Regions from separate parts of the Homo sapiens genome. Here region 2 is linked to region 1. A link means that fine-mapping ties the variant in region 1 to the expression of a gene that starts in the linked region. Tissue or cell type: whole blood. Region 1 holds a variant in brackets; the other region holds the start of a gene. All regions are shown on one strand. Distances are from middle to middle.

Region 1 (8,320 bases):
TGTGATAGTAGAGTAGAAAGTTTAGTAATTTAGTGCCTTTATTCCAATTCATTATACATGAACCTATGGTTAACAACTTTTGGAATCCCTCCCCATTTGGTTTATCTGGAAAACAGGAAAATCGCCAACTCTGCTATCACTTTTTTGGTCCTTTTTGGAGCAAAATAAAGACAGTCATGTAACACGTAACATTTTGGTCAACAATCAAATGTGCATATATGGTAAGCCTGAAAGATTATACCACTATATTTTTACTGTACCTTTTCTATATTTAGATATGTTTAGATACACAAATACTTGCCATTGTGTTAACATTGTACTCAGTACAGTAACACGCTGTACAGGTCTGTGTATTTTCTATGATGCTCACATGCAATCACCCAAACTGCATTTCTCAGAACTCTGTCATTAAGCAACACATGACTGCACATCAGCTCAATTTTCCTTCTTTGTAATGGGTTATACCATATGTACTATTTTTACACTAAAAACGAGAAGATACAGAAGAAAAATAAACACAATTTTAACAGCCATTTTAACTGAAGTGGCATTTTTGCATGTTTTCATCATTTGCTGTGTATCTTTAAATAGCACAATACCTTAGCACGTTAAAGAAAAAAATACCTGAGGGTAGCAGCAAATCCAAATGCAGTTAGGAAAACCATGGACGATCTGCTTGAGATTTCAAGAATTTTGAATAGATGTGAAAATTCTATTGGTGTACAGCTTTATGAACAAGGAATTCAGCTTTATCATCAGTTATTAGAAAGCTGTGCAAGGAATTAAGTTTTATCCATAGCTTTATCAGTGGAGAGTGGCTTACAGAAAGAACTATCAGATGTGTTTAAATTTTAACAGCCCTAATGTTTTGGCATTGCTGTTATTTATGCACTCCTTATTTATAGCTTTGATAGCTTTAATTTTCTAGTCTTATCATGTGCCTGACAAATGTAGTTATATGCCTTACTGACATTTCCATTAAAAACTTTAATTTTGAATTATTCATGCATAACTATGGAATTTGTTACACTGGGCTGAAAGTTGACAGGATTTCAACCACCATCTGTAAATTTTTATTTAGATTATGTATCTCATAATCTTGTTTTTTAAAAGAACAGGGGAAACATTTCTTGTAATCTGCTGTTTAACAAATAATAGTTTTTTAAAGTTAGGCAGTTTACAGTGAGCCAGATCATTTTTGTATTGATTGAAAAATACAACTTTTAGAAACTTAGGTTTCAGTATTAACGACAGCATTTAGCTTAGCATTACTTGTTGTTTGAATCATTTAACTCTAAGGAAGACACTGGTTAAGAATGTTTTCTAAGTTTTATACCCTATAAATGAAGACCTAAAAAAAGTATAAAATGAAATACAGTGAAATGTACAAAATTCCAGTTGACTTTTATTACCTAAAATTTAAATGTGTACTTAATAAATCTTGAGTGATTACTTGATAAATCACTAGATAGGTGGTACGTTTCAACAGTTATTTAATGCTTTCTGAAGAAATAATTTCTGGTCATTAAAAACTAATCATGTTCTGCATCAAGAATTATGGCTTTCTAAAATTATTATAACTCTTAAAGTTTTAACTCATTGATGACTCAAGAATAAATTTTAGAAAACTTAGGATAGCATTCTGTTCCTGTAACAATCTCAATGAAGTTTTTTTGCAAGACTAAAATGTATTTGATTTATTCCTTAAATTTTAGATTTTGTTAGATGCCATTTAAATAATGGTACAGAATTCACTCCTTAGAAGCATTTTTTCAGACAAGCTGAAGTGGTTTTAATAAGACTGAGTACTATTTAAATTACCTTTTAGAATTATTTTAATCATTGAGTTTTTAAACATGTGGCATCTTTACCAAGTACATTGGAACGTTTATTATTGACAGAACAGGTTGGGATACAATAAGGACTTGGGATAAGTCATTTCATTAATAATCAATACAAATGCTGTGCGTTTTAATTTATAAAACCATACAGAACACCTTCTGCCAAACTTCAAAATTTGTATATACTTCTGGGCCACAAAAGTTGATAGTTTTATTTATGACTACTTAGATTGTTATTTATGCATGAAACAAGGCAGGAAAATACATTGAGAATTATGTTTACAGTGAACTTCTTTAATGCATCATATTTCTTAAAACATACTTTTAATGTGTACTTAGTATTTTAAAAACCAAACAAAACAATTATACAATTGCAGGTTTGTACATGTTGTCAATGACAAAAATAAAACCATTCTGGTGGCTTAAAAAAAAAAACACATAACCTTAAGTGTGGTACAAAACTCTTATAATGGAGTTATTGTGTCTTCATTATAATATAACCTTATAGCTCCCAATGAAAAAGATGAACCTATTTAATATACTATAGCCTGGAAGAACGAAAAGGGATAAGCATAAAGAAATAACTCTTGGATCTGTTATTTAACACAGAATTCAATTAAAGAAATGAGTTATTCATGCTATTCTTCCTTTCAGTATTGATGTAAAGTTCTTATCCAATGGGTTATCTTAGACTGGTATTTCCATCAATTGAGTCTACCTATCGTCCTGATTTTTCTGGGCATTTAAGTGTTGAATATCTTCTAAAAACCAGAATCAAGGAATAAAGTCACCTTTCTTCCCAGTTTTGGGGGCTAATTCTGTAAACAGCTGTATACTCATTTCCAACTACAGTACTGATACAAGTATGAAAGAGTTTAGATGCTATTAGTGGCAATCATGAGCAGCACAGGAACCAACATTTGCTGACCCTAGAGGCTTGGAGCTGTGATTCTAAAATGGAACATGGGATGAGACCACATGATATAAAACATTCCCTATTTTAATACACTCACTTTATACTGTGAAATCTTGCAAGCTACAGAACATATAGCACCACAATTTTGTTAGGTGAGTTAAAGACTGAGAAACACAGGCTGAGAAACAGTCTCTGGCATAGATCAACTAATAAGGCAGTAAGGACAGTTTTCAGATGTTTTTTTCTCCTGACCCAATACAGTATAAGAAAAATCATTCATGTTCTTTCTATGTGATTTGCAAGTCTTCTACCCATGTTATCAGCATGCCTATCTTTTACTGTTTTCACAAGATCATACTGTCACACTTTTTTGTACTTACTGTATCAGGAGCATTTTCCAGTATCATTACTACTTTACATTTTGAATGAGCACATAGATCTAAATTTATCTAATTCGTACCTATTACTCAACATTTTTGTAGCTATGTTATTATAAAACTCCAAATGGACTATTACTCTATCATTGTATAACTAATGCTTTAAAAACTACTTAAAAGAGAATTTGCTTAGTAACGTCTAAGGAATTTGGAAGATAAATTTTAAGATATGTTTATTTTGAAATAATGAAAGTCTGCTTAGTAGAAAATCTTAGTGGAAGATAATAGGTAACAAATTCATACATCCTAAACATGGGTACACAGAGGGCTGTCAGACAAGAGGTAAGGTCATAGAATAAGCA[T/C]AACATCTTCATAAGCACAAACTTTATTCAAGATACGAATAGGAACACTACACACTTGAAGAAGAATGTTTTGGACTATGGTGCCAGGCCCCGTGGGATTTGTTCCTCTATATACTTTGTGGAAAAGTTTGAGCAGCAGAGCCATAAATGAACATAAGGCATATTCAATTAAGGTACCTAATTAATGTTTACTATGGCTTGGTTTTAAGATGGTAAAATATGATTATATATCATAAAAATGTCAACAGAGCTGTTAGTGGAGTCTATTCTAGCAGGCTTTGTTGATTTCAATTACCAACTATTGAAAACAATGTCACTATTACTTGAGTAAGGAGGATTACTTAATAGCAAGGATTTTAAGGTGCAGCATTTCATATCTGGTTTGACAATAAAACTATATTGCTTATTCAAAAAGCAAAAATGTTATTTTTCACTTCATGCATGGTTCAGGAGCTTACAATGTGTTATTCGCCACACTTGAAAGATTTCATCCTTTCAAAACTGAGTACTTTTCTACAAGGCACCATCAGAGGCTCTTTACATGGACATATACAGTATCACCAGACACCTGTGATTTACAGTGAAGTTAATTTTTAAAGCACATTTACTCATTAGATACTAAAATATACACCGGCACTAAAATAAACCTAATGAGCATTTCTGATACGTAACACCTGATGGGAAGTGAATGAATCAGCTTTGACCACTGGTGCTTGGAAGAATGACCTAACAGTGTACATAATCAAAATGACATTTAAATATATGAAATGATAGAAAATTAAACTGTTCATAATGAGCTCTCCAGTGTGCTTTTCTCTGACAACTTATTTCTAGTACTCAGTCATGGAATGGATTATCTTTCTACAAACTTGGGTGGGGCGGGGGTGGGGTGGGGGAGACACAACCACGTTCCTCCTTTTATTTAAACTTATCTACCTTTATAGAATCAAAGCAAACACAAAATCTATTTGTGATTTCTATTACAGGAATTTTCTTCACAAAATGAAAGCACCATCAAGATAAACGGAGAAATGACATGAAAGTAAACAAACGCCACATACATTTGGTAACTATCCATATTTTATCTTTAATATTTGGCAATTACTTTAATAAAAATCATTTAGTTTACCACTTTCTCGGGTCTTCTTGTATCATTTGGAGACATAAAGGAGCTGCAATTGCAAAGCATTTAAAAGTATATCAATTCCTAGGAAATCCTTTCATATAGGAAAAATATGATGGTGGTAAGAAAAAAAATGGACTATTAAAATGGAAAACTCCATTTTGGAAAGGCAGAACACCACCTCAGTGTTAAATATGCAGTCTCTACATAAGATATAAAAAAAAGTAGAATGAACCCTCCTTAAACTTTGTTCCTTTCTAAGCTTTTGATGTCTTTGCAACAGACAGATGTGTGTTTAATACAAGTGATGCAAGACGTCAATACTTTCAAAAACACTTCTAAGCTCCCTCAATATTTTAACATCTATGTGCCAGGCAGTAAATCCTTAGGAATACTTGTTTCACATTATCCCATTCATCCTCACAGGTGTTAATTTAAGCCAATGCACTTAATGAAGCATGGCAAAGGCAACTGTTTAAAATAATGAGATGTTATTTTCAGGACATGTAAGTTTATTACACCATTAATAAAAATTAGAGTCTGTAGATTTTGGAGAGATAAATGAGGCTAATAGAAAGGTAAGATTTTTTGCGGAGGAGGTAAAGGCAAGTTTTTTGTTGTTATTTAAATACTAACCAGTGATATCAAACTAACCTTATAAAATACATACACTATCTCCCCACCTTTAAAGCACCCCTGGGGTGTAATGAGATAACTAAAGGATTGAAAAAAGAGATCTCTAAAAAAAGGACTAGAGGACAGCTATCTACTTTTGATATGAGTCTCCACCAGTAAACATTTCCCAACCATGCTGTTTTCAAAGCTCAAGTCATAACGCCCAAACTTTGATTTCTTCCCCTCAAAATACTTCTAAAACCTGAACACTCAGAAAAATGTTTACATAAAATAATGTATTCATATAACTGCAACGTATGAACTTAAAGTTCTAAGAAAGATGCAATGCCCAGTACTTACTGATTAAATGTTGATGAAGACAGGGCAATAGCATTTTGGCTCCACCATTAGCTCAACTGCAACCAATTAAAGAGATTCACGCAGAATATGCAGGTGCTAAATCAGTCCCCAAAAGCATATTTTGGGGTGAGCCTATCAACTAAAATAGTAAGAAAAAAAATTAGCTTGTTTGGTGGCATACAGAAGCACCTAGTATCGAGAGTTAAAATGAGATAAAAATCACCACAATCATGAAATGTATTTTTCACACCTGTAACATAATGGTTTTTTCCAGATACAATCAGGCTGGTTTTTGTGCTTTCTGTATGGAAGAAAAAAATTATTCTCACACCAAATTGGATTCTCTCAGCATGACAATTTTTGTAACGTTAAGGAATGTAGCTTTAACCTTTTTTCTCTAAATCTTAACAGAATTTCTAAATCCTAACCAAATACATGAAATCCTGTCTCTAAGTACACCATAAGAGCAAAAAGATAAGATTTTGGTGTATCGCCATAGTCATTCTTTAAATGTTAAAGTGATGGCAAATTATTCAAGTTATTAAAAGACAGTAATCCTCAGAAAGCTATTTGAAATATAATTTCAAAACCAGCTTAAAGAAATTTGAAGTAATGAAAAAACATGAAAACCCTTAACTGAAAAAAACAGATTTTGCAATACTTTCAACATAGTGGAAGAATATTTTCGTATTTGGAGCTTAAAAGCTACAAATGGTTTTCTCCCACGAATTAAAAATACAGGTATAATTTAAAATTTTCCAAATGGCGTCACTTTAAGCTTAAGACATGTCATATTAAAAAATAATTCCACAGAATATGCATTTTGTAGGACGTCCCAACATGCAGCCTCGACTGTCAGAAAGGAGGCACACATAATCAAATCCATGTACATTAAAAAGAGGTACACAAAGATGAATGAGTTGCGAAAAAAGCAACTACACAAATTCAATGAGAGAAAGGGAGGAGTCCTGACTCATACTGTATACTATTATCCTTTTCCTTATCTACACCGAGTATTTTATATAAAGACATATGCTCTATCATTCAATTGCACAAAAGGGCACTTGGCCACTTCTACTCTCAAATCTGCTCTGGAGATTGTGGTAAAACATTCTACATACCTCCCTGAAGAAATTCTCAAAGCGAAGTACATTTTAGAGAACAAAGTGGACTTAACAATTTTAAGAACTTTCTCGGAACTCGGCACAATAGGGTAATTACAACTTTACAGCCGCATTTTCCGTGCTCCACCAGGACTGTCCCCGCGCCCCAGCCCACATCCCTTCTTTAAAGAGAGTCAGACTGAGAGAGACGGTTCGGCCAGCTATCCCGATTCTCTATGTCTGGGCCGTGAATCGCCGAGCAAGGCTGAACCCCCGCAAAATTACAGAAGAATCTAAAGCGCAAACGAGGGAAAAGAACAAAAAAGCAAAGGGGGGGAAGTTGGGTCGAGACCCACCCCCACTCTCTCGACCCCACCCAAGCCTACCTCTCCTACGCTGGACCATAAAACAAAACCGAAAACGTAACAAAAATAAAAACTAAAAATAGAACACCACGAGAAAACAAGTAGGGCTTCCTTACTGTCTCCACTCCTTCTGGCCCAGTTCTCTACTCAACCTCCCGGCCCACCCCACCCCCCAGGGGTCCCGGCGCCATTTAGCTCCTCCGAAGCCGCCGCCATTTTCCGCCCCCGCCGGATCGCCGCTGTGCCTCGGCAGCCGCTCGCTTCCCTACTCTGCAGCCTGAGCCACGGGCACCGCCCGGCCCTAAGAGGGAGGCCCTGGCCGGAACGTGCGGGGACGGCAGCTGCAACGTCAGGAAGGCCAGGCTCCGACCCCGCCCGCAGTGCCCCGGCGCCGACAGCTTGCGCCAGCCGGCGGGAGCTAGCGGGCAGCAAGGGGGCCGGACAGGCTCCACTGGGCGGAGCGGCCCTGGCGGCGGTTGGAACCTGAAGGTTCCATCGCACTTACTTCCTGTTTTGGGTCCGGGCACTTTGGAAGAACCAGGATGGAAGCTCCAAAAAATACCAGGATGGAGGAAGCAGCCACGGGCGAGAGTGGCTGCAGCTGGAGTGAGCGAGCGCGACGAGCCACCGGAAACGGAGCTGCGGCCGCGCCCCGCCCCCAGCTCCCCGCACGCTGCCCCTCCCGCTCGTCTGTCCCGCTGGCGGCCCAGCGTGCTGGCTGTACGCGTCACTTCCGGCTGTGTCGGCGCGCGAAAAAAGGTCCTGGGTTGGAATGTTTGTACTGGTCTGTGGCGGTGGTTGTCGGCTGTCCTGCCAGGAAAACTCGGCACTGACTATCCCACTGCTGATGCTGTAAAAGAGGTCCTTCTGCTATGACGCAACTGTGGTTCCTCTGGTTCTGGGGACACTTAGGCCTCGCGTGCCGATTTTCATAGTTCCCTGTGGCTCCGAGCCGAGGGAGCCGCGGTGTGGAACGGAGGGAACCAGTGATCTCAGTGCTGAAGAAAACAGGGAGTGTGTGTCTTCATACTTGATTTGCCTTACCGCAGGGGCATAATATGAGATATCTGGGCGTGTTAAGTCGTTCTTGATGAAATGTGTCCTCTGTGAATGTAGTCTCACTGTTAGACTAGGAAGATGCTGTTTTGCTGTGCCCAGTTCCTCTTAAAAGTACAGATGCTCCTTGGGTTGCAGCCGTATAAACCCATCCTAAATAGAAAACGCGTTTTAATACCCTTATAAACGAAAAGGATAAATA
Region 2 (8,320 bases), 190 kb before region 1:
GATTTTCCATGATAAAATCACAATAGGAAACCTAAAGAAAAGAGAGAGAGCCCTCACAACTTCAATCTCATAGATAGTGTTACGTATCCTAGGTACAATTCACAATTCACTAAACCAGTATTTAGGGACCACAGCATATCTAGGACTTGGTACCAGCTTTTATGAAATTTATAAATCTGTCAGATAGAGAAAACCAACTTAAAAAGAATGTGTAGACACAAAGTGCTAGAAGTAAAGAGTGATCAGTGGGACTGGTATAATTAGTTACCATTTATTGAACACCTAGCATTTGCCAGGTACTCCAGTTTGCATTACAGAAAACATGTGTTAGCTCTCTAACTTTTATGTTATCTCTGAAAGGTGGCATTCTTTGCAATTTTACATATGAATATATCAAAACTCAGAAATTTAGTAACTTACCTAATGTCAAACACAGGACCCAAACCCAGATCTGTTAAGACTACAATCTTTCCCCTATACAAAACAACATGATAGAAGGTAAGGGAACCTGCAGTAAATCTTAGTGGGTAGATAGTATTTGATGTATAGAAAAGGATTATGTGTTGATATTGCATTGATATAGAAAACTTTGGAGCACAAAGTACAAAGAGGTGTGGAAGTGTCCAACTGTAGAATTAAAGATTATTATAGAATACATAAATCATATGACAAGCTGCTTTAATTGCACAGGTCGTATGAGGTCTACACAGAATGGTCTCAAGTGTTCCAAAGCAATCTTGAACATATTGACACGTGTATTAATTGCTATCAAAGAAATCTAACTCAAAATGTGAATAAGGTATACAAATGCTAAATAAAAAATGAGGTTTCTCAAAGCCTTTGTAAATTATCATATATTAATTATATTAAATAATGTAATATATTAAATGTAATTATATGTTAAAATAGCAACTGAGAAATCAAAGAACGTTAATATTGAATTTGAACTTCCTATTCTCTCAAAAACTATTTTTTAAAACTGATAGCAACGCTAAACAAAGTATTCCACTCATAGGTTACAGAATCGAACACTATCAAAAACATGGACACAGAAGAGACTATTTTCAGCTAATACCTGTTTTCCTCTGCTTTAACAGAATCCTGAGTTGTAGCTGTGCATACAGCCCCCAGTTTTATCTTTCCTACCCTCTCTTGGAGCTCAGTGTGGCTTTGTGATGACCTTGTGTGTGTCACTTCCAGGTCATGCTCCCAAAAAGGAATGCATGTGTTCTCCCTGCACTTTCCCTCCTTTTTACTACCTGCTAGGTAGTGACGAACTAAACAGCACCATGGCCTCATTTATGGAAGTCATATATGCAGGATTGCAGAATCTCCCTACTAGTCCTGGACTCCTACCTCTAGATGTATGGAAAAAAAAAAACTTCTATTTTATTCATACCATTGTATTTTGGGCTTTCTATTGTAGGGAGAAGAGCTTAGCCTGTACCACTAATATAAAGAGATAATTTGAAAATGAGAAATAATAATTAACTCAAAGTTCTTTAGCTTCTTTCTATCTATTGACTTTGGCTGCACACCATTTTGACCATCCATAAAAATGGGTTTGTACCTAATGGAAATGTAGATCTGGATCCAAGTACAGACTCTGCCACTTTCTAGCCATGTGCCCCTAGGGCAACCAACTTTAAGTGAATTTCCTTATCTTAGAGTGGTTAATCATACAATTCAATAAAGTCAGAATTTGTTTTCAATGCCTGTGAAAGCACATTATAAAAACAAAATAATCCTGCCTGAAACCACCATATTGTGGTAGGCACAATTACTATGAATGGCCCCCAAGATTCCACCCCTGCTAATCCCCAGAACCTGCGAATATGGTGAGATCATTACTCCTGTGATTGTGATATTCTCTACAGAACTGACCTTAAAATAGGGATATTATCGAATTGGAACTAATCTAATCACTTGAGTCCATAAGAGCAAAGAGCTTTCTCTGGCCAGTGGCAGACAAGTAAGACTGCTTTAATGCTTGAGAAGGATTTGTGGTGTCTTTGAAGATGCAGATGGCCTTAAAGAACTGAAAGAGGCTCAGGCTGACAAACAGTAAGGATATAGAAATGTCAGTGTGAATTCTACCAACAATCTGAAATAGCCTGGAGGTGGATTCTCCCCTAGAGCCTCCAGAAAAGAATCCAAATCTACAGAAACCTTGGTTTCGGTTTTGTGAAATTCTAAGCCAAGTACTCAGCTAAGCCCACCCAAACTTCACATTTACAGAAGCTATGAGATAATACATTTGTGTTGTTTTAATTGTTGCATTTGTGTAATTGGTTAAGGCAGCAATAGAAGACTAGTACACACATACAGAGAAGATAAGCTATTCTGTTTACCTCTGTGCCACTTAATAGACTCTAGAAAACTGGAAGCAAGAGTATTAGTTACATACCCACTATAGTGCTTAACCCACCAACCGGTACACATTAAAAATATAAATTATTGGATTCTTTCTTGAAGAGTTTTCTTGAATTCTCAACCACAAAGATTAAGTTAAATAAGATGGTTCCAATAGCACTAAGAAAATGATTATGCTAGATTTAATTAGAATTGACTTTCTGGGGGCAATTAGATATGAATTCACAGAAAGTGGAAAAGAACCACGAACAATACGTGAAGGAATTGTCACATACCAGTACACCAAGAAGATGAACTGCTTGAGACTGCCAGGAGCCTGCTGCAACAATTGTTTTGAGATCACAGGGAACTGGACTAAGTCGGTGACTGTGGGAAGAAAGAAACAAGCTTAACAAATATTTAAGAGGGAAAAAGAAATGAACAAGCTAGTGAAAGAAGGTGGAATGCAGACAAACTAGGAGTTGGGAGTTCCCAAGACAAACTTTTCGTGAATCACTGCAAACACACGCAAATAGTCCACCTGCTAGAGAGCAGGAGTAAATGATCATACAATTAAGTAGGTTTCAGACAAGTACACCTTCCATTAGACGGGTTCAAAGGGTAGAGGATACGTTTTCAGTGGCTGGGTAACAGGTTCGTCGCAGAGTGGCAAGGGGTAGAAGCAGGAGCAGAGGGCAATGAGAGCTCGGAGGCTCTTCCCACCAACCCAAGAGCAACTCTGCACTCAAGAGGCCATCAAGTGAGAGAAATCTAAGCACTACAACGGAGCAGCCCCGCGGCCCAACCTTGAGGGTACCCCTGAGACCCCAGCAGGCGAGATGCTTGATGACACTACTCCCCCACCAAATCCAGGCACCTTTGCGGTTCTGCACGACTTAACTTTCCCCCGCCCCCGAGTTGAAGGATTAGGGGAGGGAGGGAATGCTGCTTCAACGGACCTGTCCGTCCTCACCGCCCGCGCCTCGCCGCCTCTGCCGCAGCCTCAGCCTGCAGCAGCACCGGCTCGCTCCCCCTTGGGCCTCAAAGGTGCGGGAATTGGACTGAAGGCCGCTAGGGTCCCGCCCCGCATTCGCCGGGGAACAGGATTGGATAGAAAGCCGCGAGGGTCCCGCCCCTCACTTTCCGGGGAACGGGACTGGACGGACAGCTGCAAGGGTCCCGCCCCGTGCCTGACGTCGGGGGCGAGCCGGGCCTGCGCGGTAGTGGGACCCGACCCTGTCTCCAGTGGGCGTCTTGGGCCCCGGCTCTATTCTGGGCTGCGGGCCTGGGAAGGGCTCGCCGGGTGCCAAATGAGCTGTCCTAACTCTGCGGGGCTGCAGCTTCCTGCATGATGCTGGGGAGCTTGGCGCCTGACCCAGGATCTAGAAGGCACTCTGGGCAGGCCGCGCTCCGCCCACGAAGGTACCCAACCCTCTGGGATAGATGCAGGAAGCGATGGTTAAGACCCATTTTCACCCAACTTCTCGCCGCAGGTCTGGCTTACCACACGCTCCTCCCCATTCCCAGTGAGCCGCTTTTTGCAGCACCAGGCGAACACTTACACCAGTGCTTTGTAAAGGAATCTTATTGTCCACCCCGTGTCTTGGCAAAAGAACAGTGATCACACAGATTCCTACTTGGGCTCTTTCCTTTAATCTTCGGAGGCTGAGTTTGCCCAACTCAGGTATGCCGCAGCACACTACATCATCTCGGGTCTCCTTGCTCTTCTGCAGCTCTTCATTGCTACCCAAGTTATTTGAATACCCCAGGGATGCTTACCCCCGGGCCTATCTGATGTCTTTTACTGTTGTGCCAAGAAATGGAATCTTTAACCAGAGTGGAGCTACCCAAGTTCTAGAAGATCATAATGTGATTGACTTAGTTTCACAGATTAATTCATTTTGCTTTTACCTTCTGAAATAAAATATACTGTTTCATTTTTAATTTTAAATACACTGTTTCATTTTTTTGTGGAAGGAAAGACCAAATGTTTACACTGACTCTGAACTAGTTATCAAAGATAAAGATTTAGATTTCAAATTAACATGTCATGACAGGCCCCATTCCTTTGTCTGTCGTTTCTAACTCCTTTAGCAGTAAAGTTTGACCTGAAGGGAAGTGAGGCTATGTGTAACTGAATGTTCCCTTTGTGTAAATATTCATAAGTTTTCTACAGAAATATTGTGTTTGATTACAGTACAGCTTGCTGGAAGTGTTTCATAATATATGGCAGACGTACTATTCTAAGAAAAGTTCTGAATTTTGAAACATATCTAGCCAAAAAGATTTTAAATAAGGGATTAGGAATTTGTAGTTGTAATTTCTGAAGGTGTGATAAAGAACTTTTTCTTTCATATATAAGTGCGATGCTCTGGATGATGTTAAAGTTTGCTTACAAGATAAAGTTTTTAAATTGAGTAACTAAAAACTACTCAGAAACCTTCGTTGTATTTTTTTTCTCCTTTTTAGTGAGTCTTGGCATCTCTTTAAAAGTTTATGCATGTTTAATGCCTGTTGGTGCATAGAATTTAGAACCATTTCGCTTCACTCTTTTTCCTACTCTTGTTGTTTATTTCAATGGAAACAAGATGTTTCTGTAAAGATTCCTGAATTATCGGATAGACAAAAAGGTGTGGGAGTGAAAAAATGAATGGAACACAGATTTGAGTATGTAGAAAAAAATCTTTTAAAATATGTTATACTGATAAGCATATGTACCCCAAATCACCAAAAACAGGTATTTTAAAATATGTTTGGCTTCAAAATGTGTGATATATATTTTAATGAAAGATTCCAAATTATGTTGCATTCAGGTTAAACTTGAACGAGTTTGCATTTCTTAGAGTGGAGCGGGAGATATTGGCTGGTAAGGAAGATGTTTTAGGCACTTGAAGTATTTGTGATAGCAAGAAGTTGTTCCAAGATTAAAAATTGACTATGAGTCAAAGTAACTTTTTGGAGGAAAATTTGTAAGTAGTACAAGTGGTGATAATTTTTTAAGTTGCCATTAAAAAAATCTTTTATTTTTGTTCTTCTGTAGTTCTTACTCAGCATACCACAAATTGCAAAAGACTTTATAGATAAGTCTAGATAAATTTCACCATTAAAAAGTATTAAAATGCTAGACTAAGAAGTTCATGTTTCAATCTGCATAACTGGCTTCCTGCTAAGATTTGTGACTCTAATAAGTAAGGAGATATGGTAAATAGCCCTAATCTATGGGAGACCTGTAACCTCCTTTCATTCTGATGTATAAAATGAACATGTTGAAGAAATAATTTTGTGATGTTTCTTCTTTTTAATGGGGGGGCAGTAGAAATATGGTCATTTTGGGAAGCAGCCAACAGCAAATTAAAGTACACTGGACGCAAAGAGGGCAATGTAGCATTAAAAATGAACTCCACTGCCAACAGCAGATGAACAGTGTTTGATACAAAAGGTCTCTTTTTAGTACTAATCATTGATTTGGGGTTGCTTTTGATGATATTTACAGTACATGAAAAGTTGCCACCAAAATCTGAGGGGAAGAGTTAAGATAACTATGATGTTTTTGCATCTCAGAAAAAAATACCTTCTTACTAAACAAAATATAACATTTAAAAATTTTGTTAACATCTTTGTTGAAATATAATTTACATACCATAAAGTTCGGCCATTTAAAGTCCACAAATCAATGGTTTTACTATATTCACAGGGTTATGCAGTCACCATAAGCTAATTTTAGAACATTTGGTTCAAATATTTAAAAAGATTATTTTCTACATACTCAAATCTCTGTTCCACTCATTTTTTTCAGTCCCACAACTTTTTCTATATCCAAAAATCCAGGCATCTTTACAGGAACATTTTGTTTCCATTGAAATAAATAACAAGACTGGGAAAAGAGTGAAGCAAAGTGGCTCTAAATTCTGTGTTACCAACAGGCATTAAACATGATTCATCAACTGACTGATGAATGTATGAACCACTTTTTGTTTGTCCATTCATCAGTTCATGGACATTTGGGTTGTTTCTACCTTTTGTCTATTTAAATAATGGTACTATAAACATTTGTGTACAAGCTTTGTGTGAACAGGCTTTCAATTAGTATTTTAGGAGTGGAGTTGTGGGGTCGTATGTTAACTCTATGTTTAACATTTTCAAAAACCGTCAAACTGATTTCCAAAGGAACTGTACCGTTTTTACATATCTGCCAGCAATATGAGTTTCAATTTCTCTGTGCCTTTAGTTACAATAACAATATAACAGCCCTTGCTATTGTCTTTTAAAAAAAATACAGCCACTCTAATGAATGTGAAGTGGTGTCTTGTGGTTTTGATTTACATTTTTTTGTGAAGACTAAGAGTGTTGAGTATTTTTTCATGTGCTTATTGGCCATTTATATATCCTCTTTGGAGAAATGTTTATTAAGATCCTTTTCCCATTTTTTAATTAATGCACACATTTTAAAATTATATTAAAATTAGGCAATGGTCTGACCATAAAAAGGCTGCTTATGGAATACTGTTATGTTAAACTTCACTTACAGGATGCTAAATCCTTAGAACTGAGGTTTTCCCCAGAAAAAGATTAATGGAAACATCAGTTGCTTTTCAGACTTGATTCTGCTTCAAAAGATGATTTTACACAAATAATTTTAAAAAACTTTAGTACACAACGAATCACTTTTAGTTTGGTATGCATCCACATTTCAGCATTTAGTAGTGGTCCTGAACAGAAAGTGAAAAACACAGCAATTTTTCCAGGAGGTCAAGTCTGCCAATTTCAGGGATCTGCTGTGTACCCCAATTTCTTTCTTAATCCCTGCTGAGGATCTTGAGAAGCAGGAGCAGCACCAAAACCAAGGCATGCACTGGATCCAAGGTTCTTTTTGTTCCAGTTGTGAGATTCCAAACTAGACCCCAGTGGATTGCAAGGATGACCAAATGAGAGCCCTGCTTAAAACTTCTTCAATTTTTAAAAGCGAAAGCAATTACAAGAAAATGAAACAATGCAGAGGGATCATATGTGCTTTCAAGTGTCTTCATGTGCTCTTTCTCCAGGTTTAACCACCAAGGACTCTGAGAGCTGGCAGGTCTGAGTAACCCTGGTAACAATTCTCTTCACCTTATCAAAACCTGAGCTAAAACCAATGCATCAGCTGATGATGACAGCAGAGAGTGGCAGGGCTGAGGACCCAAAGTCATTTCCCAGGCTGGCGGAGAGTGAGTAAATGAGATTCTAAAACTAAACAAGGGAGGTCAGAGACTCTTTCCAACCTTACCTGATGGCTTCTGGCCAAAGCAAGGAAGTGTCTTGGAAGGTGTTGGTTGGTGATGGTGCGAAAAGACACTTGAGAAGGAGGGAAGAAAAAGCAGCGCCCCTTGATAAAGGTGGGGGAGAGAAGATATGGGGAAAGCCCTGAATTCCTCATCAAAGGCCAATCTCAGAGAGTAGCAGGGGGTTACAATCTATGCTTTGGCCAAGGGCGGGAGTGGAGGAGTGGGGGTTAGGATGATGGCTTGGAGCGGGCATCATTTAAGACTTAAAGAAACCATGGGTGCAGGCAAAGCACCCCACACACTAAGCAGTAGTCCCACAGGCTGCGACCTGAAACCTTCACATCTACTCTTAACAAGCCCCCATGGCTAGAGGGCTGTTGCAAGGGGAGAAGGCAGAGACCCCAGACCATGTAATCAACAGCAAGGTGATTGTGTGATGTGTCTTTTCCCATATTTAGGAGGGTGAGTTTTATGAATGACTTTAAATATTATGCACTTAATGGTTATGTTTATTACTTCGTACAAAATATTTCTGAGGCCAGGCACAGTGGCTTATGCCTGTAATCCCAGCACTTTGGGAGCCCAAGGTGGGTGGATCGCTTGAGCCCAGGAATTCGAGACCAGCCTGGGCAACATGGCAAAACCTTGTCTCTGCAAAAAATTTTTTAAAAATTAGCCTGGTATGGTGGTGCACACCAGTAGCCCAG

The links. PIP is the estimated chance that this variant, and not a neighbour inherited with it, causes the effect.
Region 2: TP53TG1 starts here. The variant in region 1 is fine-mapped to the expression of TP53TG1 in whole blood (TOPMed, PIP 0.93).

The regions. Positions count from the first base shown.
Region 1 is chr7:87,151,803-87,160,122 of GRCh38, reverse strand. It overlaps DMTF1 (cyclin D binding myb like transcription factor 1), which reads right to left and starts at 7,670. Exons shown (of 18, transcript NM_001142327.2): 1 at 7,568-7,670. DMTF1-AS1 (DMTF1 antisense RNA 1) reads left to right here and starts at 7,630. Exons shown (of 2, transcript NR_136253.1): 1 at 7,630-7,821. RefSeq lists a silencer at 4,130-4,259 and enhancers at 7,475-8,036, 7,882-8,121, 8,037-8,320. The variant T/C (reference allele first, on the strand shown) is at 3,497.
Region 2 is chr7:87,340,759-87,349,078 of GRCh38, reverse strand. TP53TG1 (TP53 target 1) reads left to right here and starts at 3,587. Exons shown (of 3, transcript NR_015381.1): 1 at 3,587-4,036; 2 at 7,395-7,556. CROT (carnitine O-octanoyltransferase) reads right to left here and starts at 3,415. Exons shown (of 18, transcript NM_021151.4): 1 at 3,312-3,415; 2 at 2,649-2,739; 3 at 1-31. The coding sequence starts at 10. RefSeq lists a silencer at 3,390-3,599 and an enhancer at 7,237-7,306.